4 linked regions of the Homo sapiens genome follow. The main gene of each other region encodes a partner of the protein of the gene in region 3 in a complex. Each region holds a gene or a part of one and is shown on either strand. Other genes may lie near its edges. The genes, in order: MFAP1, SMU1, IK and SF3B3.

What was found.
Region 1: IK (region 3) and MFAP1 share a complex: the UniProt entries of both Homo sapiens proteins name them as parts of the spliceosome B complex.
Region 2: IK (region 3) and SMU1 share a complex: the UniProt entries of both Homo sapiens proteins name them as parts of the spliceosome B complex.
Region 4: IK (region 3) and SF3B3 share a complex: the UniProt entries of both Homo sapiens proteins name them as parts of the spliceosome B complex.

Annotation. Positions count from the first base shown.
Region 1 is NC_000015.10:43,821,660-43,828,701, reverse strand, and holds the start of MFAP1 (microfibrillar-associated protein 1), read left to right. Parts: upstream 1-4,011; 5' UTR 4,012-4,132; coding exon 4,133-4,211; intron 4,212-7,042. Other genes in the region: WDR76 (WD repeat-containing protein 76), read right to left, coding at 336-737, 1,610-1,669. UniProt on the Homo sapiens protein: Involved in pre-mRNA splicing as a component of the spliceosome.
Region 2 is NC_000009.12:33,073,655-33,080,798, reverse strand, and holds the start of SMU1 (WD40 repeat-containing protein SMU1), read left to right. Parts: upstream 1-4,124; 5' UTR 4,125-4,190; coding exon 4,191-4,216; intron 4,217-6,992; coding exon 6,993-7,144. UniProt on the Homo sapiens protein: Involved in pre-mRNA splicing as a component of the spliceosome. Regulates alternative splicing of the HSPG2 pre-mRNA. Required for normal accumulation of IK.
Region 3 is NC_000005.10:140,657,801-140,662,983, reverse strand, and holds the end of IK (protein Red), read right to left. Parts: intron 4,248-5,183; coding exon 4,208-4,247; intron 4,046-4,207; coding exon 3,820-4,045; intron 3,670-3,819; coding exon 3,651-3,669; intron 3,229-3,650; coding exon 3,150-3,228; intron 2,870-3,149; coding exon 2,789-2,869; intron 2,227-2,788; coding exon 2,169-2,226; intron 1,365-2,168; coding exon 1,276-1,364; intron 1,086-1,275; coding exon 977-1,085; intron 806-976; coding exon 771-805; intron 683-770; coding exon 655-682; 3' UTR 504-654; downstream 1-503. UniProt on the Homo sapiens protein: Involved in pre-mRNA splicing as a component of the spliceosome. Auxiliary spliceosomal protein that regulates selection of alternative splice sites in a small set of target pre-mRNA species. Required for normal mitotic cell cycle progression.
Region 4 is NC_000016.10:70,568,793-70,575,823, reverse strand, and holds part of SF3B3 (splicing factor 3B subunit 3), read right to left. Parts: intron 6,782-7,031; coding exon 6,683-6,781; intron 5,819-6,682; coding exon 5,675-5,818; intron 4,730-5,674; coding exon 4,625-4,729; intron 4,152-4,624; coding exon 4,011-4,151; 3' UTR 1-4,010. UniProt on the Homo sapiens protein: Component of the 17S U2 SnRNP complex of the spliceosome, a large ribonucleoprotein complex that removes introns from transcribed pre-mRNAs.

The sequences.
Region 1 (7,042 bases), on a different chromosome or scaffold from region 3:
GATATACTGTACATAAACATGTAAAGGTGAGAAAGGCACCATAAAGTATGACTAAACCCAAAAATATATGCAGTTAGTTTAGAGAAAGAAAAAAGGAAGCAGAGTAAAGATTAAGTCAATCCTTTCATTGACACATCAACAGCAAGAGCAAAAATAACCCAAGGAAGTTATTTGTTAAACCTTAAAAATAATAAAAATGTATTATTACATTTATACTTACATTAGATGATGAAATAACTTGTTTGTACCAGAGAGATCCTCGAAAAACTTCGATTTATCAGAACTTCAAATTTCAAAAAAGAGAAACCAGAACAAGCTACTAATTAAGTTCTTACCAGGGATGGTGTGGTATCTTCATCACTGTCTCCATCCTGACTACTTTCCACATCAACACTGAGATTCATCGCATCTGCCGTTCTCTTGGGTTGTAGCTTGTTACTTTCAGTATGAACAGCTGAGGATGAATTTTGCAGCGTGGATTCTGCCTTGGAAGATGTGTTTTTCATCTTTGGAGGTATAATCCTTCTGCAAGTTTTCTTTATTTTAGTCTTCTTACACGCCACTTCATTGTTAGAATTCTTTTCTGATAGGGATTTGGGGCACATAAGCTGGTCTAGCTGGTAATTACTGAGTGAAAAGGGGGCAAGATAGACCTTAGCTGTTTTTATTAAAACTGTAGTCTGTGCTGGTCTCAGAGACACATAAGCGATGTTTTGATTTTCTTTATATTCATTTACCTATTCAGATCAATAAAAGAAAACAGAATATTAGAACTCCAAGTCCTGTGCCTTTTCTTACAGGATCCCTAACAGATCTAATAATTCCCATTTCCCAAAGACAATATAAATCCAAATTGAGGCCAGGTGCAGTGGCTCACGCCTGTAATCCCAGCACTTTGGGAGGCCCAATCGGGCAGATCGCGAGGTCAGGAGATCGAGACCATCCTGGCTAACATAATGAAACCACCTGTCTCTACTAAAAATACAAAAATTAGCTGGGCATAGTGGCACACGCCTGTAGTCCCAGCTACTCAGGAGGCTGAGGCAGAAGAATCACTTGAACCCGGGAGACGGAGGTTGCAGTGAGCCGAGATCACACCACTGCCCTCCAGCCTGGGCAACAGAGTGAGACTTAAGCTCAAAAAAATAAATAAATCCAAATTGACACCCTTCGTAAGAAAACTTATTTTCCCCTCCAAAATCCTAGATATGTAATTCACTAACCTTAACCTCAGTAGAATTCACTTACTGGGCACATTTGCCCATAAGTTTTCCAGACCAATAATAATAATGACTAGCATTTGTGACTGGGGCAAATACCCCAACTGTCAGCTGCGGATTGTCTGGAATTATTTAAAGAGTGTGAAGCCGATCATAACTGTGGCAGAAGAAAACGCAGAAGGTTGAAGAAAGGGAATCCCAGATGTGACTCTCCCACTATTTCTCGGGTTATTGATAAGAACCTTTCGTCAAAGCTGAAGGCCTAAGGGCAGGGATCCCCCGCCTACCCCCGGTGCCAGGTGCCCTCGACCTCCTGGGCCTGTGTCCCGCATAACCCTCACAAAAACCGAGGCAGGAGCACACCTTGGAAGCACCAGTCCGTTTCTCACCTTCATCTGGGGTCGCTGTCTGGAGTCCGCCTTCTCAGCCGCCGCGCCCGACCTGGACATCTTTCGGCTTCTTAGCGGCCGGCGCCTTCCCGCCAAGATTGCGGCGGGAGGCCGGGAGGGGCGGGTCCGAGGCGGGGCGGAGCCCACTCAGATCCCCAGCGGCCGCAGCGCCAGAGCAGGAAGTTGGGGTTTTACGCGCGCTTCTTAAGAAGGCCGCCTTGGCCAGGCGCGGTGGCTCCCGCCTGTAATCCTAAGCACTTTGGGAGGCTGAGGCGGCGGATCACCTGAGGTCAGGAGTTTGAGACCAGCCTGGCCAACATGACGAAACCCCGTCTCTACTAAAATTACAAAAATTAGCCGGGCTTGGTGGCGCGTGCCTGTAATCCCAGTTACTCAGGAGGCTGAGGCAGAATTGCTTGAACCCAGGGGGCAGAGGTTGCAGTGAGCTGAGATCGCGCCATTGCACTCCAGTCTGGGCAACAAGAGTGAGACTCCGTCTCAAAAAAAAAAAAATGCTGTCTTAAAGCCCTAGACTCAAATTCTTTAGGGATGTCCTGGGGCTGAACTGACATTTTTACCTTTGACTGGTGATTTTGATTCTGGTGGTACTGGGATGTCGCTTTGAAAAACACTAACAGGCCGGGAGCGGTGGCTAACGCCTGTAATCCCAACACTTTGAGAGGCCGAGAGGAGTGGATCACTTGGGCCCAGGAGTTCCAAACCAGCCTGGGCAACATAGTGAGACCCCATCTCTATAAAAAATACAAAAATTAGCCCAGCGTGGTGTTGTACGTCTGTAGTCCCAGCTACTCAGAAGGCAGGGGTGGGAAAATGGCTTGAACCTAGAAGGATGAGGCCACAGTGAGCCGTGATTGCGCGGAACTCCAGCCTGAGCGACAGAGCAAGACCCTCTTCTATAAATAATAAAATAAGATTCTGGCTATTCTCTTTAAGGTTCCTTCTAGCCCAAAACTGTTTCCTTGGTTGCTTAGTTGGGTCCCACACTGTTCCTTGCCTGAGATTTGTCCAGTTTCATTTCTTCTCCCACTCAAGGCCCAATTGTAGAACACAGGTGAAGTAATTTGGGTTAATCATATTAATAGCAACTTCAAGGCCCCTCATGACTCAAAAATTACTGATAAAACCAAACTTTTCATGGTGTCCTGTATAAAACATACTGTTTCTGGACTTTAAGACTTTGTTCCTACTGTCCCTTGTCTCCCCCGCAGTTATAAAGTCCTTTCTACTGTGAAATGTGTCCTGACTTTCCAATTAGCCAATATTATATATATTTTTTAACACGACTCAGCTTGTAAATTGGAGCTGCTTCTGTTATTATCCTGTAAGTCCTTAAAGAGTTCTTAAATAGGCCGGGTGCGGTGGCTCACCTCTGTAATCCCAGCACTTTGGGGAGGCCGAGGTAGGTGGATCATCTGAGGTCAGGAGTTCAAGACCAGCCTGGGCAACATGGCGAAACCCTGCCTCTACTAAAAATACAAAAATTAGCCGGGAGTGGTGGCCCACGCCAACACTCAGCACTGTGGGAGGCCGGAGTGGGCGGATCACTTAAGCCTGGCCAACATGGTGAAACCTCGTCTCTACTAAAAATACAAAAATCAGCAGGGAGTGGTGGCAGGCGCCTGTAATCCCAGCTAATCAGAAGGCTGAGGCACGAGAATTGCTTAAACCCGGGAGGTGGAGACTGCAGTGAGCTGAGATCGAGCCACTGCACTCCAGCCTGGGTGACAGAAAAAGACAGTCTCAAAAGAATAATAATTACTTAGATATTTAAATACAAACATTTTCTAGCCAGGAATGTATTTTAATAGGTAGTTTCCAGAAACTGGAAAAACCTGAAAGCCTAAAAAAGTGGAGTTTTGGGATTTCAGGTGGGCAATGTCCCAGGCACCTCGGGAGTTTTTTTTTTTTTTTTTTCGGTCACTGGCCTAAATCAGCACCACCTGCCCTGTGAAACCAAATACCGCACCACAGCCCACCCTGGCCTTATGAACTAAGCTAATCGGATACTACTGGCAAGATTTTTATTCCATCAAACTCTACTTCTTCTGAGCTTTCAACAAGCCATTCAAACAGTAACTCACTGTCGCCTGAGTTTCTTATTCACTATACCGTTCTTGGCTTCAAACCAAGCTAACACGTAAAATCTTTCATTCGAACCTTCCTCACCGCAGAGTCCTAACAGCAAAGCCCAAAGGAAGCAAAATTTCCCGCCAAAAGCTGCTTCCAAATTCTGCGACGTAGAGGACATGCGGGCAGCCAATGAGCATGCGCAGAAACCGACTCGACTTCCTAGCTGTGGGCGCCCAAACGTCGTCCACCATCCCACAATCCTCTCGTCACGTATTTCCGGTTTATCTAGCTCAGCCGTAAGTAGTTTCTCTATCAGTCGCGCAGCTGTGTTCGCGGACTCAGGTGGAAGGAATTTCTTCTCTTCGTTGACGTTGCTGGTGTTCACTGTTTGGAATTAGTCAAGTTTCGGGAATCACCGTCGCTGCCATCAACATGTCGGTCCCAAGCGCTCTCATGAAGCAACCGCCCATTCAGTCTACGGCTGGGGCCGTCCCAGTTCGCAATGAGAAAGGTACGGTGCTAACACCCTCTTCCCAGTCGAATTTTAACCCCTTCCGGCCCCAGCAACCTCCAGACCTCTCCCGGACAGACCACTCCAACCCCGCCAGCTCTTGAGATCTGGCTGCCAGATTCTTCGATCTTTCCACCCCCACCCACTTGCATCCGATCTTGTTCCTGTGGCCTGCTCTCGTATTCAGCAAGCACCTCTCTTCTGTTAGCCTCCACAAATTCCTTAGACTAATGTTACATATATATAATATATATTACACATATAAAAACATTAGGAACTTAAGTATATATCAGAATATATATGTCTAATATATATATGCTAGAATATATGTATTAGTCTAATATATATTATGATTAGAATATAATATCACTAATTACATATAATTACAAGAATTTATGTATTATTAGTGTAATTACTTAGGAACTTAAGTATATTATTAATCTAATAATTAGGAACTTAAGTATATATCAGAATATGTATATAATATCAGACTAGATAGATAGATAGAGAATGCCTGTTGGCAGGGCATTGTGCGGGATACAGTCCCTCTTTTGCTGTCCATAGAAGTCTGCTTATGCTGCCCAGGCTGGACTCGAATTCCTGGGGCTCAGGCTGTCCTCCTGCCTCAGCCTCCCGAGTAGATGCCGCCGTATCTAGTCTCAACATGGCTTTTGAGAATTATCTTTGGATCCCTATACATCTAATTCATTCATCTTAACAGCTTATGAATTCCATTGTATAAAATAAACTGTAATCCACACTTTATTCCCTACTGAGAGGCAGGTGGTTGTCCCCTTGTTCAAAAAAGTGCTGCGGCCAGGCACGGTGTCTTATGCCCATAAACCCAGCACTTTGGGAGGCTGAGGCGGGCTGAACACCTGAGGTCAGGAGTTCAAGACAGCCTGGCGATCATGGCGAAACCCCGTCTCTACTAAAAATACAAAAAATTAGCCATGCATGGTGGTGGGTACCTGTAATCCCAGCTACTTGGGAATCTGAGGCAGGAGAATTGCTTGAACCCGGGAGGTGGAGGTCGCAGTGAGCAGAGATCGCACCATTGCACTCCAGCCTGGGCCACAGTGTGAGACACTCTCTCAAAAAAAAAAAAAGAAAGTTCTGCAATTGTCATTCTCTAGCCAATACTAGCTTTATTTAGTACCTGTTGCCAATTGCTCCCCAAAGTAAGTTATAAGAACATAAGAATTTGTGGAGCACAGTGGCTTACACCTGTAATCTCAGCACTTCGGGAGGCTGAGGCAGGAGGATCGCTTGAGGCCAGGAGTTCAAGACCAGCTTGGGCAACATAGCGAGACCACCCCCCACCCCCGCCAATCTCTGCAAAAATAAAAATTAGGGCCCGGCGCGGTGGCTCACGCCTGTAATCCCAGCACTTTGGGAGGCTGAGGCTGGTGGATCACCTGAGGTCAAGAGTTCGAGACCAACCTGGCCAACGTGGTGAAACCGTCTCTACTAAAAATACAAAAATTAGCCAGGTGTGGTGGCAGGCGCCTGTAATCCCAGCTACTCGGTAGGCTGAGGCAGGAGAATCACTTGAACTCAGGGGGCAGAGGTTGCAGTGAGCCGAGATCGCACCATTGCACTCCAGCCTGGGGGACAAGAGCAAGACTTCGTCTCAAAAATAATAATAATAATAATAATTAAAAATTAGCGGGATGTAGTGATGTGCTCCTGCTACTTGGGGGAAGCCAAAGCAGGAGGATCACTTATGCTCGAAAGTTCAAAGATGCAATGAGCTATGATTGTGCCATTACACTCCAACCTAAGCAACAGATCAAGACCCTGTCTGTTAAAACAAAGGCTGGGCGTGATGCCTCAGGCCTGTAATCCCAGCACTTTGGGAGGCCGAGATGGGTGGATCACCTGAGGTCAGGAGTTTGAGACCAGCCTGGCCAACATGGTGAAACCCCGTCTCTACTAAAAATACAAAAATTAGCCGGGTGTGATGGCGCACGCCTGTAATCCCAGCTGTTTGGAAGGCTGAGGCAGGAGAATCACTTGAACCCGGCAGGTGGAGGTTTCATGGAGCCAAGATCATGCCACTGCACTCCAGCCTGGCCAACAGAGCAAGACTCTGTCTCAAAGAAAAAAAAGAAAACAAACTTTGAGAACCTAAGAGCTTTATTTCCCATATATTCATCATCTACACACTTGGTTGTATCAGATTTTTACATTTTTTGCCCAATCTAACAGGTGTGAAATGGTATCTCATTATTCTAATTTGCATTCCCCTGATTACTAGTGATGCTGGGCTTTTTTTTTTTTTTTTTTTGAGAAAGAGTTTCACTCTTGTTGACCAAGCTGGAGTGCAATGGCTCCATCTCGGCTCACCATAGAGCTACTGCGTCCGGCCGATGCTGGGCATCTTGTTCATGTGTCTAATAAGCTCTCTAGATTTTCTTTTCCATGAATTACCTGTTTCTGTCAGTTACCCACTTTCTGTTTGCTTTGTTTTTATATATTCCAAATCTATAGTATACGTTTCCCCATTTTTTGGCTTGTCTTTTAATTATGGAGTCTTCTCTTACACACGTTTCTAGTTTTAGTATTATCAGATTTATCAACTTTATCTTGTATGGTTTTAGCTTTTTTTTGTATATCGTTTAAGAAATAATCCTTCCCTGCACTGAGATCACAGATACTCATATTGTAAAGGTTTTCTATCTTCTGAGTGTTTGTATATATTAAATTGAGTTGAATACACACTTATACAAGACAGATTATAAGTTAGCTTACAGTCCAGTAGGGAATGTAAATATTTAAGATAAGTTTTTCATAGTTGCGTCTTTAATCCATCTGGAATTTTTGTGTCT
Region 2 (7,144 bases), on a different chromosome or scaffold from region 3:
AAGTTTCATTTCTCAAGAATGGTGCCCATGATCACATTGACGTGAATGCATAAACCACGGGCACAGCAGCAAATAACAAGTTCTGACTTGAAACAGGCTACTTGGCACCAGGGATTATGTCAAGCAGCATGTGATGCAGACAGAGTATAGTTTACACTCCCCACCCTCCACTGCCCCACGTTTTCTTTCTTTCTTTTTTATTTTTATTTTTATTTTTTGAGACGGAGTCTCACTGTGTCACCCAGGCTAAAGTGCAATGGTGCAATCTCGTCTCAGGCCAACCTCCGCCTTCCGGGCTCAAGCGAATCTCTTCCCTTAGCCTCCTGAGTAGCTGGGATTACAGGCATGTGCCACCATGCCCAGCTAATTTTTGTATTTTTGGTAGAGATGGGGGGGTTTCACTATGTTGGCCAGGCTGGTCTCGAACTCCTGACCTCAGATGATCCACCCACCTTGGCCTCCCAAAGTGCTGGGATTACAGGCGTGAGCCACCATGCCTAGCCTATTTTAATTTTATTATTATTATTATTTTCTTTAGAGACAGGGTCTCACTTTGTCTCCCAGGCTGGAGCGCAGTGGTGCGATCATGGCTCACTGCAGCCTCAAACTCCTGGGCTCAAGCCAATCCTCCCGCCTCAGCCTCCCAAGTTGCTGGAACTACGGGCGTGTGCCACCATGCCAGGCTAATTTTTCTGTGAAGAAGGGGTCTCTTGCTATGTTGTCCAGCCTTGTCTTGAGCTCCTGGTCTCAAGCAATTTTCCCACCTTGGCTTCCCAAAGTACAGGGATTATAGGTGTGAGCCACCACACCTGGCCAATCAATATGTGCTATTTTTTAGAGAAAAATTAATCAATTTAATTGTACCTGTAATTGACTGAATAAAAGGAAACTGAAGTGAAACCAAAAGAATTGTTGAACTTATGTAAATGTTTCTTTATCACAAAATATATTATTTTCTAAAAGATCTTTCCAAGGTTAAAAAAGGAGAGTAAGAAAAGTATTAAGGGATTGGAGTTATTATTTTGGAGCAATGACTAATAGGCATCTCTTTAACATGTTCTCAATACTATTAGGCTCAAGGACCTCCAAATCTCTTGTAACATCCCTTTTAGTGTTCTGAAATTCATAAGTAATATAATCTACTTACACATTGGGAGGCCAAGGCGGGCGGATCACTTGAGGTCAGGTGTTCGAGACCAGCCTGGCCAACATGGCGAAACCCGTCTCTACTAAAAATACAAAAATTTGCTGGGCATGGTGGTGCGTGCCTGTAATCACAGCTACTTGGGAAGCTGAGGCAGAAGAATCACTGGAACCCAGGAGGCAGAGGTTGCAGTGAGCTGAGATGGTGCCACTGCACTCCAGCCTAGGCAACAGAGTGAGACTCTGTCTTAAAAAAGAAAGAAAAATCTACTTACGCAGATAATGAAAAAATCAATATAATGCTAAATATATAGGAAAAATAAAAATAAATTAATTTGTTATAAAATAGAGTAATATGTAGTTCAATATCAAAATCCTAGGGTGTTACTACAAAAGACATAATGAAGCAATAAGATGCTCACATCTATAAATAATGAACAAGCTTGGATGTAATAGGAGTCATAAGAAGAGAAGCCATTCCATTCAAAATGAAAGCAGAGGTGTGGTGGATATTAGAATAAAACCTGGTGTTAAGTAATCATAGAGAAGATTTATTTGTATAAACAAAATAGAGAAGTAACCTGAATTTAAGAGTAACATGACAAGTACTAGGTAGAGAAAATGAGGACATATGCTATTGTTGCGATGAGCTGGGTCTTCTTTTCAAGGAAGAAGTTATAATAATTTTGTGCTGTTATGGGATAGAATAGTGAAGGAGTATCTCATAAACCATATAACCCATGTTGATATCTCACTACATGTCAAGGCAAGCATGGAGACTCTAAAACATTTGAAACCTTGGAGACCATGTCCTTCAAGAATTGATAGGAAATAGAGGATGATTTGACAAAAGAAGCAGTATTTAAGAGGTTATGGACAAGTTGTATGGCAGACCTTTAGGCACAGAATCAGATAAGACTGAAAGCCATCAGGAAATCTACAAATACATCATTTCAATATGTAATTTCGGAACACAGATTTATTTTATTTATTTATTTATTTATTATTTTTTGGTCACTCGGTCACCCAGGGTGGAGTGCAGTGGTTCGATCTCTCCTCACTGCAACCTCTGCCTCCCGGGTTCAAGGGATTCTCCTGCCTCAGTCTCCCGAGTAGCTGGGATTACAGATGCACACCTATCTGCCTGGCAAATTTTCTTATTTTTAGTAGAGACGGGGTTTCACCATGTTGGCCAGGCTGGTCTCCAACTCCTGAACTCAGGTGATCCACCCGCCTCAGCCTCCCAAAGTGCTGAGATTACAGGCGTGAGCCACCACGCCTGGCCAGATTTATTATTACTGTGCTGCAAATAATTTTTACAATTTATATACAACAGCAATAAAATATTTAAAAATAGGTTTTATGTATGAAGTTCACTGATATCTCTACATTTCATTTGTCACTACAAATGTAATAATGTGTTTGACCTAAAGTCCCGTGACAGGGCGTGGTGGCTCATGCCAGTAATCCCAGCACTTTGGGTGGCTGAGGTGGGAGGATTGCTTGAGCTGGAGGGGTCGAGGCTGCAGTGTGCCACGATCGAGACACTGCACTCCAGCATGGGCAACAAAGCGAGTCCTTGATTCAAAAAAACGCAAAACCAACCAACCAACCAAAATCCTCAATTAACTCTTCCTATAAATTTTGGCTAGTGTTATGTTGGTTTTGAATGTATTAATATCCCATCAGGTATTGCATATTCAGCCTCATCTTAAATCTAATCAACTAATTACATCAAACGAAAGCAACATTGGCTGGGCGCAGTGACTCACGCCTGTAATCCCAGCACTTTGGGAGACCGAGGCGGGCGGATCACGAGGTCAGGAGTTCGAGAACAGCCTGACCAACATAGTGAAATCCCATCTCTACTAAAAATACAAAAAATTAGCCTGGCGTGATGGCAAGAAACCTGTAATCCCAGCTACTCCGGAGGCTGAGGCAAGAGAATCTCCTGAACCCGGGAGGCAGAGTTTGCAGTGAGCCGAGATCGCGCCATTGTGCTCTTCAGCCCGGGCGACAGTGCGAGATTCCGTCTCAAAAAAAAAGCAATCTTTCCAAACCAGTGCTCTTTCTTTTCTTTCTTTTCTTTTCTTTCTTTTCTTCTTTCTTTTCTTTGCTTTTCTTACTACAATCTTATCACCACTACTTTTCTTTTCTTCTTTTGAGACGGAATTTTGCTCTCCTTGCCCAGGCTGGAGTGCAATGGTGTGATCTCGGCTCACCGCATCCACCTCCAGAGGTGAAACGATTCTCCTGCCACAGACTCCCGAGTAGCTGAGATTACAGGCGCCCCCGCCACCACGCCCGGCTAATTTTTTGTATTTTTAGTAGAGACGGGGCTTCACCATGTTGCCCAGGCTGGTCTCGAACTCGCGCGCTGGGAGTACAGGCGCGAGCCACCGCGCTCCGCCCCAGCGCTTTTCTTTTTCAGTACATTTGTGAGCTGTATGGCGCCCGGTGCTTTTTTTCTTTTTCTTTTCTATCTTTCTTTTTTTTTTTTTTTTTTTTTTGAGACGGAGTTGCGCTCTTGTTTTCCATGCTGGGGTGCAATGGCGCGATCTCGGCTCACCGCAACCTCCGCCTCCTGGGTTCAAGCGATTCTCCTGCCTCAGGCTCCCGAGTAGGGATTACAGGCATGCGCCACTACGCCCGGCTAATTTTGTATTTTTAGTAGAGACGGGGGTTTCTCCATGTTGGTCAGGCTGGTCTCGAACTCACGACCTCAGGTGATCGCCCGCCTCGGCCTTCCAAAGTGTTGGGATTACAAGCGTGAGCCACCGCACCCGGCTCCGGCCTGCTTTTAAACAGTCTTCCTCCTGATGCGTATTTCTCTGGGGCAGGGGCATAAACTCCGCCCTCTGACAGCCCCTGAGGGCTCCGCCCCTACGCGAACCTCGCCCCTACTCTTCGTTCACTCTATCTCCAGAGCGGGAGCCAGACGCCGACCCAAGCGGAAGTGACGTTAGGTGTCCGCCGGAGGTGTCGTTGGTGTGTTGCGCGACTGGCCTTGAGGGAGAGCTGGGGCCTGCTCCCGGAGAGATACGGCTATGTCGATCGAAATCGAATCTTCGGAGTGAGTCCTGCGGTGGGGATGTTCGCGCCTTGCCGGGGGCCTGGAGGTTAAGGGTGTGGGGCGGAGGGTACTCGGGAGAAGGCATCCGAGAGGCCAGGGAGTGGAGGGCCATTTCCTTGCCCCCAAAGAAGCATCTTGGATCTCGCTACCTCGGAGGTGGGCCCACAGGAAAGTAGCAGCTCTCAGACGTGAAGCCCAAAACCTCGAGGGAGGTGGCACGGGTGGGGAAAACACACCTTGCAGACCTAAGTTCTGTCCTTGGCCGACTGCTGGCGCGCTGTGATTGACCAAATTAAGGATCCACTCTGGACTCCAGTCTAATTATCTGCGCAAGGGGATAGGTCTCTTTAAGCCTTGCTTCTCTCCCTGTCCAGCTTATGCAATGTGATTCGTTGTCTCTGCTTATACGGCCCCTTTGCTTTTCTCTGCCTAGCGTTTATCACTCAGTATTGTCACTGTTTGATAACCTCACCCCAAACTAGCCTTTGTCGGTGCCTAGGAGCTCCTTTTCCTTGTGGTCTCAGTGTCTAGCATACCTTAGAGGAAGAGTTAATTGCTTTTGGAATGAATGAACAACTAGCTTTTGGAATGAATGAACAACTATCAGGCCCGATCTGGCACGGAATTTTGGGTTGTCTGGGGAGAGACAGACTGGAGACTGGGCTAGAAAGAAAAATTTTCAAGGAATAGGGGATGAGAATTAGTGACTAAAGAAGACCTTAGTGTGCTTTTCCAGAACTCCATCCTCCACCTGTCCTTGCCAACACTTAATAATAATTAAATTAACAGACATAAAAATTGTGTCTGAGTGTAAGGGAGGGAGAGGACCTTTTTTGGAGACTTTTCATAGGAGGAAGGGAGGTTTATGCATTCAGCAAATACTGAAATGATGTTAACCTACTTGTCCAAGGTCACATAACTTTGATTCAAATCCCAGACTATCTTCAAAGCTTCTAGCTCTTTATGTATTCATTTCTGTTTGAAGGTAGGGAATTTGATTTTGGCTATGTCAAATGTGAGCTGTTTGAGGAGAGAGATGACTTATTTTGGGAGTGTAAAATGGAAGTCAACGGACATGTGCTAAGGAAGATAGTATCATAGCAGAATAACAGGGGTCTAAGTCTGGATACCTGCATACCTCATAAAGGGGCCATGAGAGAAAAAGACTACTGCAGGTAGCAGCAATCAGTTCCCTTTTTTTTTTTTGAGACGGAGTCTCACTCTGTCACCCAGGCTGGAATGCAGTGGCGCGATCTCCGCTCACTGCAAGCACCGCCTCCCACGTTCACGCCATTCTCCTGCCTCAGCCTCCCGAGTAGCTGGGACTACAGGCGCCCACCACCATGCCCGGCTAATTTTTTTGTATTTTTAGTAGAGACGGGGTTTCACCGTGTTAGCCAGGATGGTCTCGATCTCCTGACCTTGTGATCTGCCCGCCTCGGCCTTCCAAAGTGGTGAGATTACAGGCGTGAGCCACCGCGGCCGGCCTATAGTTGTTTTTAAGAAGAGGGGCCAGGTGCGGTGGCTCACACCTGTCATCTCAACACTTTGGGAAGCTGAGGTGGATGGATCACTTGAGCCCAGAAGTTTGAGACCAGCATGGTCAACATGGCAAAACCACGTCTCTACAAAAAATACAACAATTAGCCAGTGTGGTGGTGCATGCCTGTGGTCTCAGCTACTCGGGAGGCTGAGGTGAGAGGATCACCTGATCCCAGGAGGCCCAGGCTGCAGTCAGCCACAATCACGCCACTATTCTGTCCAGCCTGAGCGATGCAAGTGACCATTTCTCAAAAAAAAAAAAAAAAAAGAGGATGTTTGCTTTCTCCTCAGGAATACATGCTCTAGAGCCACACTGCCAGTTTGAGTCCTGATTTTTCCACTTATTATCTCTATTATCTGATCAAATCCTCATCTGTAAATTGGGGATAAAAGTAAACTTACCTCATAGGTTTTATTTTATTTATTTTTTTGAGACAAGGTCTTGCTCTCTTTCCCAGGCTAGAGTGCAGTGGCATGATCACGGCTCACTGCAGCCTCAACCTTATGGATACAAGCAATCCTCCCACCCCAGCTTCCCAGGTAGCTGGGACCACAAGCACACACTATCATGCCTAGCTAATTTTTTTTTTTGTGTGTGTGTGTGTGTAGAGAAGGGGTCTTCTTATGTTGCCCATGCTGGTCTTGAACTCATGGGCTCAAGGGATCCTCCCACATCAACATCCCAAGTAGCTGGGACTACAGGCACATGCCACCATGTTTGGCTAATTTAAAAAAAAATTTGTAGAGATGGGGTCTCACAGCTGCCTGATCTGGTCTCAAACCTCCTGGTTTCCAGCCAATCCTCCTGCCTCAGCCTCCCAAATTACTGAGATTACAGTCATGAGCCAGCATGCCCAACCTCATTTAGATTATTTTGTATAAATAACTAGTCTAGTCATTTAAAGTATTTCAGTGAAGTGTGCTACAATATAATTACAAGAATGAATAGGAAACTAGGCTCTGGATTAGGAAATAAGATAGTCACCTTGACACCAACTCCCTTTCTAGCTGACTGAGACATTAGGCAAATGATTTCCTTTCCTTGAACCCCAGTTCTGTCTCTATGGTTAGGGGGGGTCCCCTTATAATTTAGATTCTGTGATTTTGGAAAATTTTACTCACATGATAAAGAAATAGTAGTGAAAGGAAGATGATTGAGTAGGAGCTTGATAGGCTTTATTTTTGACCTCTGGTGAGTGAGAATCCCTGAGCTGAACGATTTGTTTTCTTTCAGTGTGATCCGCCTTATTATGCAGTACTTGAAGGAGAACAGTTTACATCGGGCGTTAGCCACCTTGCAGGAGGAGACTACTGTGTCTCTGAATACTGTGGACAGCATTGAGAGTTTTGTGGCTGACATTAACAGTGGCCATTGGGATACTGTGT
Region 3 (5,183 bases):
ATATCAGCTCTAAACCCAAAGCACTTCCCTAAGGTTACACCTTTAGCCAAGGAGACAGTGATTTGTACTCAACATTAATAAAGCTCATAGTACATAAACTCATAAAAGGTTTTGGTTCCCACCCATAAGTGATTTTCATTAGATGCCTTCATCCAGAGCCCAGTCCTTCATAGCCTGGAGATCAGATTAGCAGCCCATCAGGCTGACAGCAATCCCCAGGAAATCTTTCCCCAGGGACTAGGCCTGAAGATGGGCCGGAATGAGTCTGACATTTGAGACCAATCATACTTACATTCCTCTATCCACCTCTTGCCCATCAGTGAGGATCATTATTCTCTTCTCTACTGGGCACACTGGCTAGAGAGCATCCTTACTGTCTAGGAATCTAGAACCACAGCTCAGGAAAGGACTGATGACTTTCTGCATGTGATTTTACACAACCAGTGGAATTAGTGTTCTTGGTGCTTCAAGGGCACTGGAGGGGACATGCTCAACAAAGAAAATAGCAAGTTAACCAATTTTAATGGAACCAAGTAATTACACAATAAAATTTTATATTCATCCACAAAAAAACATCTTGCAACCTTTGGAAATTGTAGAAAGAAAACAGTGGGGAGCATATCCTTGTGGAGCATCTCTGGTTGTAACTAGTGATTAGTATTTTGGTCTTTTGACTTCAACCCTGCAATGGAAGGAGAAATGGGTCAGTATAAGATCAATACACTAAGCAATTCCCACCAGTCCCACAGAGGAAGAATAATGCCGCTCACCCATCAGCTTCCATCTTCTTCCTCTTCTCAATGATCTGCAAAAACAACAGGATAGTCTATCACCAAGCTGCCCATCTAAGCTCACCTGAGGCCCAAGGCTGACCTCTCATTTCCATGGCTCTCCAGCCCCTTGCCTGTTCCTGAATCTGCAGGCTAATGTCTTCTCCCAGCTGAAACCCTCCCACCCAAGGGGCCATCCTACTTACTGCACTAATCTTCTTCCACTGGCGATCAAGCTCTGCTTTGTCATTGGTTTCCTTGAAGCGCCTGGTTTTCCGCCCTTCAGACATTTTGATACCATACTGGAATGCAGCCCTGAAAAAAGCAGTTGGGAAAGAATGCATCAGAGATTGCATAGCAGTGGCGAGGTTTTCCCAGAGTCCTGTGGGCAAAGAACTTAGTGGGGAACATCTCAGCCAGACCACACCCTCTAACCTTATATGCACTATTCCACCAAATCCCCACACCCCTCCTCACACCCTGCCCATATTCAGTACCGACTCACTTGGGCAAAGCTTCTTTGTTGTTCATATACTCGCTGTATTCTTCCTGGGTATCAAAGTCCCAACGGCCTAAGGGCCCCTTCTTGTTACCCTGTTGCAGGACAGAATCGGGGGATGGGGAAGGAAGAGATGTCAGTGGAAATGGAATTTCAGCCCTTGATTGAAGCCAGACTCTCCCATAATCCCAGGTTCCACAATTCATAAATCATACCCTGATAAGTAATAATAAATGCTTATTACATACTTACTATGTGACAGGCATTATTCTGTACACTAAATGCATATCTCACTTAATTCTCATAAAATCTATGAAGAGGGAACTATATTTCTCTCCATTTTCCTGATGAGGAAACTGAGGCATAAACAGTGAAAGAACTTGGCAAGTTCACAAAACTAATAAACAGTAGAGGCAGGATTAAACAAGGCTCCAAGATTAAACCATGCTATTTCAATACAGTGAACTCAGGGGAAGAACACAGACTTCTTCACTATTAGTGGCATTAGTGGTTTTTTTCTTTTTAATTTTGCTTAAGACTTAGAGGAAAACTTCAATCCTGGCTAGAATAAAATTTAGTTATTTTCCAAAGACTGCAATTTTTTCTGCCCTTTCTACTTATGCATTGATGCTTGCTTACTGCCTACCATGGGAATCAAAGCCTGGCACTTTGCTATAGGAAGTAAAAAATAGATTTTTGACCCTATGTCATTTGATCTTGTGCAAAGACTCTGAAATAGTTAAGCTGCTCATGACCCTCAATGCTGCTGTTTCTACTGCTGCAGCTAAAGGAGGGTGGGGCCCAGTAAATGAGATAGATTTTTTAGGAGTGGGGAAGGAGATACATGTAAAACAAATAATAACTGCCCAAAGGCGCCCACCATCCTTCTAACTACATACCTGGTCCATTTTGCTATAATCCACCTCCTCATCACTATCCACAGCCATGTCATCCATCCTAAGGAGAAGCAAGAGTTAAACAGATGTTGCATACCCTGACCCTATGCTTCATCTGGAAACCTACCCGACTAAGAGGTTATCTGCATAGGAATGACCACCCCCTAGACCTCCCACTTAGAGCCTAATAAAATAGTTCATCCAAGTAAGAAGTAGCCTTGGGCCAGGCGCAGTGGCTCACTCCTGTAATCCCCGCACTTTTGGAGGCTGAGGAGGGCAGATTACCTGAGGTCAGGAGTTCAAGACCAGCCTCACCAACATGGTGAAACCTCATCTCTACTAAAAATACAAAAACTAGCCAGGTGTGGTGATGCATGCCTATAATCCCAGCTACTTGGGAGGGTGAGGCAGGAGAATCGCTTGAACCCGGGAGATGGAGATTGCAGCGAGCAGAGATTATACCATTGCATTCCAGCCTGGGTGACAGAGTGAGACTCTGTCTCCAAAAAAAAAAAAAAAAAAAAAAGAAGTAGCCCTGGGACTTAGCGAATCAAATTTCCATTTCACCCCCAACTTGTTTCCCAATCATCCCAGCCTCCCTTCCTTAACCAGGTTTCACATACGTGGCTGGGTAGCACTCTGCATAACTGTTGGACATGCCAAAGAAATCTCCCAGCTGCTTTTTGTCTTCTGGCTTCTTCAGCATATGCTATGTTAAAGAAAACACTACACAGGATTCTACCTATTGCTGTAAAGCTTCAGCCAGGAGGGGGCCAAGGGCTAGAAGCCCCAACATGAAAATTCTGAGTGGGCTGTGAGCTGTTATGGGTGCTCTGGGAAGGAACAAGGGATGGTTTCATTCTGTCAAAATTCAGCGTAAAAGGGAAGGAGAGGGGCAGGGTAGGAGGGAGCAGGGAGGCAGGGGGGGTTGGAGTAAAGAGACCAGTTCTCTGGAACCCAGGAACGTATTAAAATAAAGGATATGATTCTGTGCCTTCCCAGCCAGCAGACCCAGCAAACTTTTCATTGATGGACTTGATCAACTCCTTGGTAGACCCAGGTCCTAGGAGAAAAGAGAACTCAGCCCAGACCTTGAACTGAGGCTCTCACAACCTCCTCCCCACAACACACTTAAAAAACATTTTTAAGGCATAGAACCCTTTTGTCTAACAAAGTTTTAAACAAACTCCAATTAATGAGTCACTCTGGTTGAGATGAGGGTAGGGTATCCAGAACATTCCATACTTGACCTCTACCTCACCTCCTCAGAACCCCAGGGCCACAGGAATTATATCTAAGAGCAAATATGCCCTGCCATGGCCCAGGAAGGTGGAGGGAACTCCACCTATTCAATAAAGCAAGACACAGTTCTTACAAGAACCCAGAACCAGGAGGTCCCCCAATCCCACCGTTGCCAGCTCTGAGCCCTACCAGGGGAAAGCAGGACTGCTAGAGCAACTGTGAGATGCTGTGTGTACAACTCACCTTTGTCAACGTCCATGGGCTGGAAAGAACACAAAATGTGAAGTTAGTGTTACCATGAGAGATTCCTACTCATCCCTCCCCCAAGTTTGAAACAATTCCTTACCCAACCTTGCTCACATTTCCAGAGAGGGGCAACTCCATCACCTGGTACTAAGGGCCCACATCTCACCTCATCATCTACTTTTGGCTTCTCAAAGTAGCTGTGTCTCTTCTTTTCCTCTTCTCTCTCTCGGTCCCGCTCTCGCTCTCGTTCCCGATCTCGTTCTCGCTCTCGCTCTCGGTCACGGTCTCTGTCTCTTTCCCGATCACGCTCCCGTTCCCGATATCTCTCCCGCTCCTTGTCCCGAGGTGTCTTGGTTGTGGAGGGTACGTAATCCCCAATGTCTTCAAAAATACTGGGAAAATGGAGATCACTAGCTGGCCAAATTCACACATACACCTTCACTCCCCCTGACCATTTCTCCAGATTCTCATGTCAGCACCTCCCCAAAATGCCAGACACAAGAAATGTACAGACCCCCTCCCTCTGATCAGATGCCAGGGGCTAGGATACATACTTCATGTCAGCCTCAGGAGGTTTCTTCTCTTCCAGCTTCCCTGAAATTTAAAGAGAGGAGTCAGGAACATACTCCTCAGTTAATTTCCACTGAACTTCACCATCCTCTCCAGCTCTTAATGCCCTTTTAAACATCTTCTGTTTAAAACGTGGGTCAAGGCTGGGTGCGGTGGCTCACGCCTGTAATCCCAGCACTTCGGGAGGCCAAGGCGGGCGGATCACTTGAGGTCAGGAGTTTGAGACCAGCCTGGCTAACATGGTGAAACCCCATCTCTACTAAAAGTACAAAAAAATTAGCCGGGTGTGATGGCAGGTGCCTGTAATCCCAGCTACTCAGGAGGCTGAGGCAAGAGAATTGCTTAAACCCAGGAGGCAGAGGTTGCAGTGAGCCGAGATGGCATCACTGCACTCCAGCCTGGGCGACAAAACGAGACTCGTCTCAAAATAAATAAATAAATAAAAATAATAAAATAAGGCCAGGAAGAGTGGCTCATGCCTGTAATCCCAGCACTTTGGGAGGCCGAGGTGGGCACATCATAAGGTCAGGAGTTCGAGGCCAGCCAGGCCAATACAGTGAAACCCCATCTCTACTGAAAATACAAAAATTAGCCAGGCGTGGTGATGCGTGCCTATAGTGCCTATAGTGCCTACTTGGGAGGCTGAGGCAGAAGAATCGCTTGACCCCGGGAGGCAGAGGTTGCAGTGAGCAGACATCGCACCACTGTACTCCAGCCTGGGTGACAGAGCGAGACTCCGTCTCAAAAAATAAATAAATAAAATAAAATAAAATGTCGGTCAAGTATTAGAGCCTTTTTAGAATCTGTCTAGGTTTTCTGGTTTTCACCAAAAAATCTCTTTTAAAAAAAATAAATAAATAGGACATAAGCTACCCACTCTCCATCCCTCATGCTTCAGACCTGACCACTGCTTCTTAGGTAGGTTAAGGAGACAGAATCTGGCTGTAACTGTCTCCTTGC
Region 4 (7,031 bases), on a different chromosome or scaffold from region 3:
CTGCTGCCCACTCCCCACCTCTTCATTTTTCAGACTTGGGACCTTCTGATTTTTCCTGAAGTCCCAAGGTTGTGGCTGAGGAAATCAGATGCAGGCTGCAGGCTCTTCTGAAACTGGTGGCAGGCCCTCTGGCAGACTCACCTCACCACCAACCTCACAGCGACAGAGACTGCCTGGTTATAAACTCTCCTCCAACCTCTGGGTGCAGAACAGAGCTGGGAGGTGGTGGTTCATGGTAGGTGCCCAGTAAACGTTTGTGGAAGAAATGAGCGTAGCAGCCTCTTCTAGTGGGTCAGCATGTCTCCTGATGGCTTAAACAGCTCCTGGCCAAGTGCAGTGGCTCACGCCTGTAATCCCAGCGCTTTGGGAGACCAAGGTGGGTGGATCACCTGAGGTCACGAGTTCGAAACCAGCCTGGCCAACATGGTGAAACCCCATCTCTACTAAAAATACAAAAATTAGCCAGGCATGGTGGTGCATGCCTGTAGTCCCAGCTACTTGGGAGGCTGAGGCAGGAGAATTGCTTGAACCCAGGAGGCGGAGGCTGTGGTGAGCCGAGATTGTGCCTCTGTACTCTAGCCTGGGCAACAGAGTAAGACTTCATCTCAAAAAAAAAAAAAAAAAAAAGAAAAAAAAGAAAAAGAAAAAGAAAAAAAAGAGAAACAACTCTTGGTTGTGCTGGTTCAGACTGGTGTGTAGCCTACACCTGCCCATTTCAGTTCACCTGAACTTCACAGGGTGTGTTGGGCTACCAGATCACTCAAATGTCAATCAACCATGGCCAAGCAGGTGTTTTAAGAGTCCCTATCTTGTCCTCGAGAGCCATCTATTCCTTTCCTCCGTTGTGACGTTTTTTGGACCAGGTTTGATTTCAGCAGCAGAGATGTTTCTTCTGAGCTCTACATATAGCCCTTGAAAATTAATTTTAAGGGTGTAATAAAATATTCACATACAATATTCCATATGCAAATGAGCAAGTGGATGACTCAAACACATGTCATTTTTACTTTGAATAGAAAACAGAATTTAGAGGCTGGGCATGGTGGCTCACGCCTGTAATCACAGCACTTTGGTAGGCTGAGCTAGGTGGACCACTTTAGGCCAGGAGTTCGAGACCACCCTGTCCAACATGGTAAAACCTTCTCTACTAAAAATACAAAAATTAGCTGGACGTGATGGCACATGCCTGTAGTTCCAGCTATTTGGGAAGCTAAGGAGGATCGCTTGAGCTCAGGAGATAGAGGTTGCAGTGGGCTGAGATCGCACCACAGCCCTCTAGCCTGGTCAAGAGAGAGAGATTCCATCTCTAATAAACAAACAAACAAAAAAACAAGAATTTATGACCAGGCGCAATGGCTCACACCTATAATCCCAGTGCTTTGGGAGGCCAAGGCAGGAAGATTTTTTGAGGTCAGGAGTTCGAGGCCAGCCTGGGCAACACAGGGAGACCCTGTCTCTACAAAAGTTTAAAAATTAGCTGAGTATGGTGGCACACATCTGTAGTCTCCCCTACTCTGGAGGCTGAGGTGGATTGCTCGAGCCCAGGAGTTCAAGCCTCAGTGAGCTATGATCACTCCACTGCACTCCCAGCTAGGCAAGAGAGAGAGACTGTCTCTAATAAAATTTTTTTTAAAAAATTAAAAAATAAAACAGAACTTAGGAATTAAAAAAAATTTGAAAGCCAGACTGATCCCATCTGAATGCCTTTCTGGCTTTCCTCTAACAAGCTCAAGAAAGGCAGCAGCGTGGGAACAGCACACATTCTGGGGACCAGCACTCTCCCTGTGAGACGAGCCTTTTCCAGCGCCGGCAGCTGTCTCACTAGCAATACATTTACACTAACCAAGAAAAGCAACATTCCAACTAGAACCCCCCTCCTCCAAAGGAATGCTATTCTTGGCAAGAGATCTTCCAAAGGAAACATCTGCAGAACCTCTGCCAGTAAGGTCAGGGGAAAGCTGAGGCAGCTAAAAACTTTTCAGTCCTAGGATCCAAGTCACAAGGGCTTAGCAATGGAACAGGATGGAAGCAAACCCAAGGGCAGATCCCTCTGTCTGAGTTCTGCAGCAGCCTCTGATGGGTTTTGCCAAAGCTGGAGAGAGGTCTCTATTTACCTGGTTGCTCAATCAAACCACAGGAGTCAATCAGGTCCCCTTAACAATTACACAGATGGGACTTGTCATTGAGTCACATCCAATCTAATTTTAAACTTTTGTAGGTCCTGCAGCAACAACTATGAAAATTCCTTTCCACATATTCAAGCCCAAATCCTTGTCCTAGCCCTTCCTCTTAACAGAGAACAAGCAAGCTGATGGGCAGACTTCCAGAGGAAGCTCGGTGGTGACAACTCCTGATTCCATAGATTAGGTTTTCCTTTCTTACATAACCCCCTACCTTCTGTACGGAGTGTATGTATTTTAGTCAAACTTGAGTTAGAAAAGAGGCGAGGAGCTGCTCAAGTATCTACGCTGAGTTCCTCAGATGACTGCATGTCAGTATCACACAATTTGATAGAATGGATTTAGGGCCACAGGAAAAAATGAGCCCTGAAATTAGGTTTTCAAAATCTAATTCAGAACTACTGTCTACTATGCAAATTCATGAGCTAAGTGAGAAAAAAACATGTTATTTAGGGATTCGATTCCTGGCAAAACCTGGGTCTCTCTTGACTGATCTAAAACCAAGTCATGATTCAAGAGATACTTAGTTCCAGGAGACAGTGTCACAGTGTCAGGAACCCTCTGTTCTGGGCTCTGAGAGGTTCAGATTGTATTCCACCATTCCTGATTCTAACCCAGTGCTCACCAGATCATTTGCTCAATTTAGATGGCTGAGCACATGCAGACGAAAGAAAGTTTTACATTTGTGAAGTATTGAGAACAGTGAGCTCACTTCTCCAGGTTCAAGGCGCAAGGACAGCCTGGAAGACGAGGGCTTCCCACACAACTAAACAGGAGGAATTCTCAGGGGTGGGCTGGAACATTTCTGGAACTGGGCCTCTTCCACCTAACAGGCTCTCATTATACCCTAAAGGCCCTCTGGAACCCACCTGAGATGGGTGCTGCAGACAGGCCCCACATATACACAGTTCTCAGGGGCAGGGCAGTATCTAGGTTCTTCTGTACTGACCCTTCCTATGGTCCTATGGAGCCAAAGATCGCTTTAGGTGCTGTATCAGTAAAAGGGGCATCTGTTAAGACTCCCCAGCTAGAATTCATGCTAAAATCCCCATACTAACATCCTCAGAGTAGAAGAGGAGGAAGAATCAGCCACCCTTCCTCAATACCCAGTGGGAAGAGGGGTGGGTATACACATGGTTATTGAGGTCATGTTTCATCAGCACAGCAAAAAGAACCAGGAAAAAACAAAGAAACCACCACAGACCTGGGGGTGGGGAGCCACAGAGTGCCGCAAGTCCAAGTCGGTATCTGGAAGGAAGGAGTCTACTCAGTTCTTCCTGCTCTAACTTGGGTTCAAACCTCCCACCTACATCCTCATCTCCAGAACAAGACACATGGATGCCAGTCACCTTAAAAACTAGGTTTCTATTTCTGGTTAGATTCTAGAGCAGTGGAACTCAGGAGTGATACTATACCCTACCCAGTCCCACCACAGCCTGCCTCCTTCCTCCCACAGAGATAACATTGTACAAAACTGTATTTACAAGAAAACCAATTAAAAATTAAGGGTGTGTGCAAAAGTAGACAGGAGAGTCAAGACATATCAATGCAGGGATGGCTTTGGGGAATGGGGGACTCAGGTTCTACACTGGAACCTGGGGTCATGTATCATGTACCAGGTGGGGAGAAGTGTAGCAAATCTCAGTGCCAATTTGAGGGGAAGCCAGTCATTCCAGGAGAAGAGCTGAGGGGAAAGAGCTGTTGACTTTCATAATGCAGTCTTAATTATCCAGTCACCCTCCTGCCACATGGCAGAAGCCAGGTGGCAGTGATGGTGGTGGGGGAAACAAAACACACAGTCTCTGGCAAGCCCCACCGGGAAAGGAGGGCTCAGAAGGCGTAGCGGGTCCGGATATCCTCGAGTTTCTTGGACACTTCGGGTGGGGTTCGGTCCAGTTCTTCAGAGACGTTCTTTTGTTTGTTGGGTTCCATGGAATTGAACTGCTCACAGAGGTCTCCATCAATCACATTCTAAGATATGGAGAAAGCAGAAAGAAAAAAAATGGTGAGATGCCCAAAGAAAATGGCACATGCTAAAGCAGCACTTGTAGGGAAAGCTGTTTTTATTTTTTAGTTTTTGAGACAGGGTCTCACCCTATCATCCGGGTTGCAGTGCAGTGGGATAATCTTAGCTCACTGCACTCTCAAAATCTGGGGCTCAGCCTCCCGATTGGCTGGGACCACAAATGTGTGCCACCACGCCCAGACCGGGAAAACTTTTTATTCTCCACTCGATACTTGAACCCCACTTGTAGATCCAGGAACACTATCTTAAGTTGACTCTTGGTACTCAGAGTTCAGATTGGCAGAAGCAGGTGAAGCCTTTGCTCTGGCTGTGGTCTGCCCTGAGGGGAGCACCCTCCCTGGTACTATTCCCATCAATCCACTCCCTGTGCTGCTCCTTTCTCAGATCTCCCTTTTCAGCTCAGATTCCCCCAACCTACCTTCACAGGGAAGTAGTAGGAGCGAAAGCTGAGGTGGTCCCGCCCACAGAGAGGGGGATGTTCAGACCGCAGGTGCATTTCCACATGCTGGAAGAAGTCATGGTCCTGGCAGAAGAAACAAAAAATCTGTCACTGAGAAGTGATTTCAACTAGTCTAGAGTTTCCACAAGCACAACGAACAGACAAGCCATTCATTTTTACTACACAAACACACGGGAAATATCTAATCACTTTCTGATAATCACAGGTTTTTCTGCTACAACACGATAGTTAAACCCCAAAAGGAGACCACATGTTGTCTGCAGTGCAAGAGAGAATGCCACACATAAAGAATGGTTTGTGAGGTCAGATTCCTGATCCCAGCTTCCTTGGCTGGAATAAAACATGCCAAACTCTGGCAAACCTAGAGTTGATTCCATATGGCAGTGTGTGCCCCAGGAGGGATCATCCCATCAATCCTGGCAATCCTAGTCTGTGGAGTCCAGTTCTAAAGCTCTGGGCTCAGGCTAACCTTGTAAACTCGCATCAGACTGAAGCAAACCCTGGGACACTATAAAAACAAACGGCCTGGCCGGGCGCGGGTGGCTCACGCCTGTAATCCCAGCACTTTGGGAGGCTGAGGCAGGCGGATCACAAGGTCAAGAGATCGAGACCACCCTGGCTAACACGGTGAAACCCCATCTCTATTAAAAATACAAAAAATTAGCCGGGCATGGTGGCGGGCGCCTGTATTCCCAGCTACTTGGGAGGCTGAGGCAGGAGAATGGCGTGAACCTGGGAGGTGGAGTTTGCAATGAGCTGAGATTGCGCCACTGCACTCCAGCCCGGGTAACAGTGAGACTCCGTCGCAAAAAAAAAAAAAAAAACCAAATGGCCTTCCCTGGGTGCGGGAGAATCAAGATTCCTATCTCCCCAAGTACTTCTGTCACTTTATAATTCCCAGAACATTATTAATTATATGTGGGGACAAATGAATTTGACCTCTTAGGTAGATCCAGCACCAAGAAACAACCTTAAAAGTCAAGGCCAGAGTAATGTGGGCGCTCTCACCTCATGGGACGTGAATGGCACAAGGATGCCAATTCCTCCAGACAAGGTGGTATAGACAAGTGATTCTGAGCCTCCAGGGATCAGCGTGGTCTTCTGCAAGGACAGCACCGTCTCCCCGACATGGTAGTTCATGATCACCTCTGCCTGTGAGTCACAAACAGACTAGTGACTGTGTGCACCCTCAGGAGCCTCCCTGGACTCCCAAGGGCAAGCAGTGCTCCCTAAGGCACATTTCATCATCTATTAACATCCAAAAATTATTATAGAGGCCAACGTGGGAGGATTGCTTGAGCCCAGGATTTCAAGACCAGCCTGGGCAACACAGTGAGGTCTCGTATACCCATACCCACAAAATCTGCCAGGTTTGGTGGCATGTACTATAGTCTCAGCTACTCAGGAGGCTGAGTGGGAAGGATCACTTGAGCCCAGGAGGTGGAAGCTGCAGTGATCTGTGATTGTACCACCACACTCCAGCCCGGGCGACTGAGTGAGACCTTGTCTCAAAAACAAACAATAAATCCAAAAATTATTAAACCCTACAAATATTTTAAAATTCTCACATTTACTTAAAGCTTAATGCCTCATAAAACATGCTAAAGTTACTGTTCATCATTTCTTACGATAAGAATCATTTTGTTAAATTTATCAAGCTTGCCATAAAAAAGGAAAACACAAAGAAAATTATAGAAAACAGCAATCACTAGGCTTGTCTTCTAAAATAGATTTGCCCGAAAGTCCAGAGATGCTCTATTAAAGCAGCACATGCCTACAGGAGAAAGTAAAGCCCAGGACACACCTCAGAGCAGAGGACTGGGAATGGACTCTCTCTAAGAAACTCGCTACTCTCCAAGGAGATTTTTTGCAGATTGGTAAGAAAGGACTGTGGACGGACAGCACTCAGCACAGTCGTGTGCACTATGAATAATTCACCAAAGGCAATTTCTTCAGTGAGGGCAACAGGAAAAGTGCTAAGCAGTGTTCTCCCTGGGGCCCATTCTGCAATCTTACCTTCTGGGAGGCCCCATTGAGCAAGCCACGGTCCCACAGGGCTTTGTTTCCTGTAGGATCCTCATCTACTTCATCATTGGTGTTAGGTGGGAGCCTCACCTACAAGGAAGTGACACAAGTCACACTGCTGGGGCCCGGACCTGCTCACCTGAGTCACCAAGCAACAGGTCTGGCCAGGTCTTTGCAAGTCAGCCACAGGGGCACTGCCTAGACAGAGGCCTGAGCCCACGTGTCCTGCACCTGCTCTGGTGGGCAGGAGCTGTGTCTGAGGAGCAAGAAACTCAAAAGAATCGACCCATGAGCAAGAGTTTAACACAGCTAAGGGTAAAACCAAAACCACACAACATAG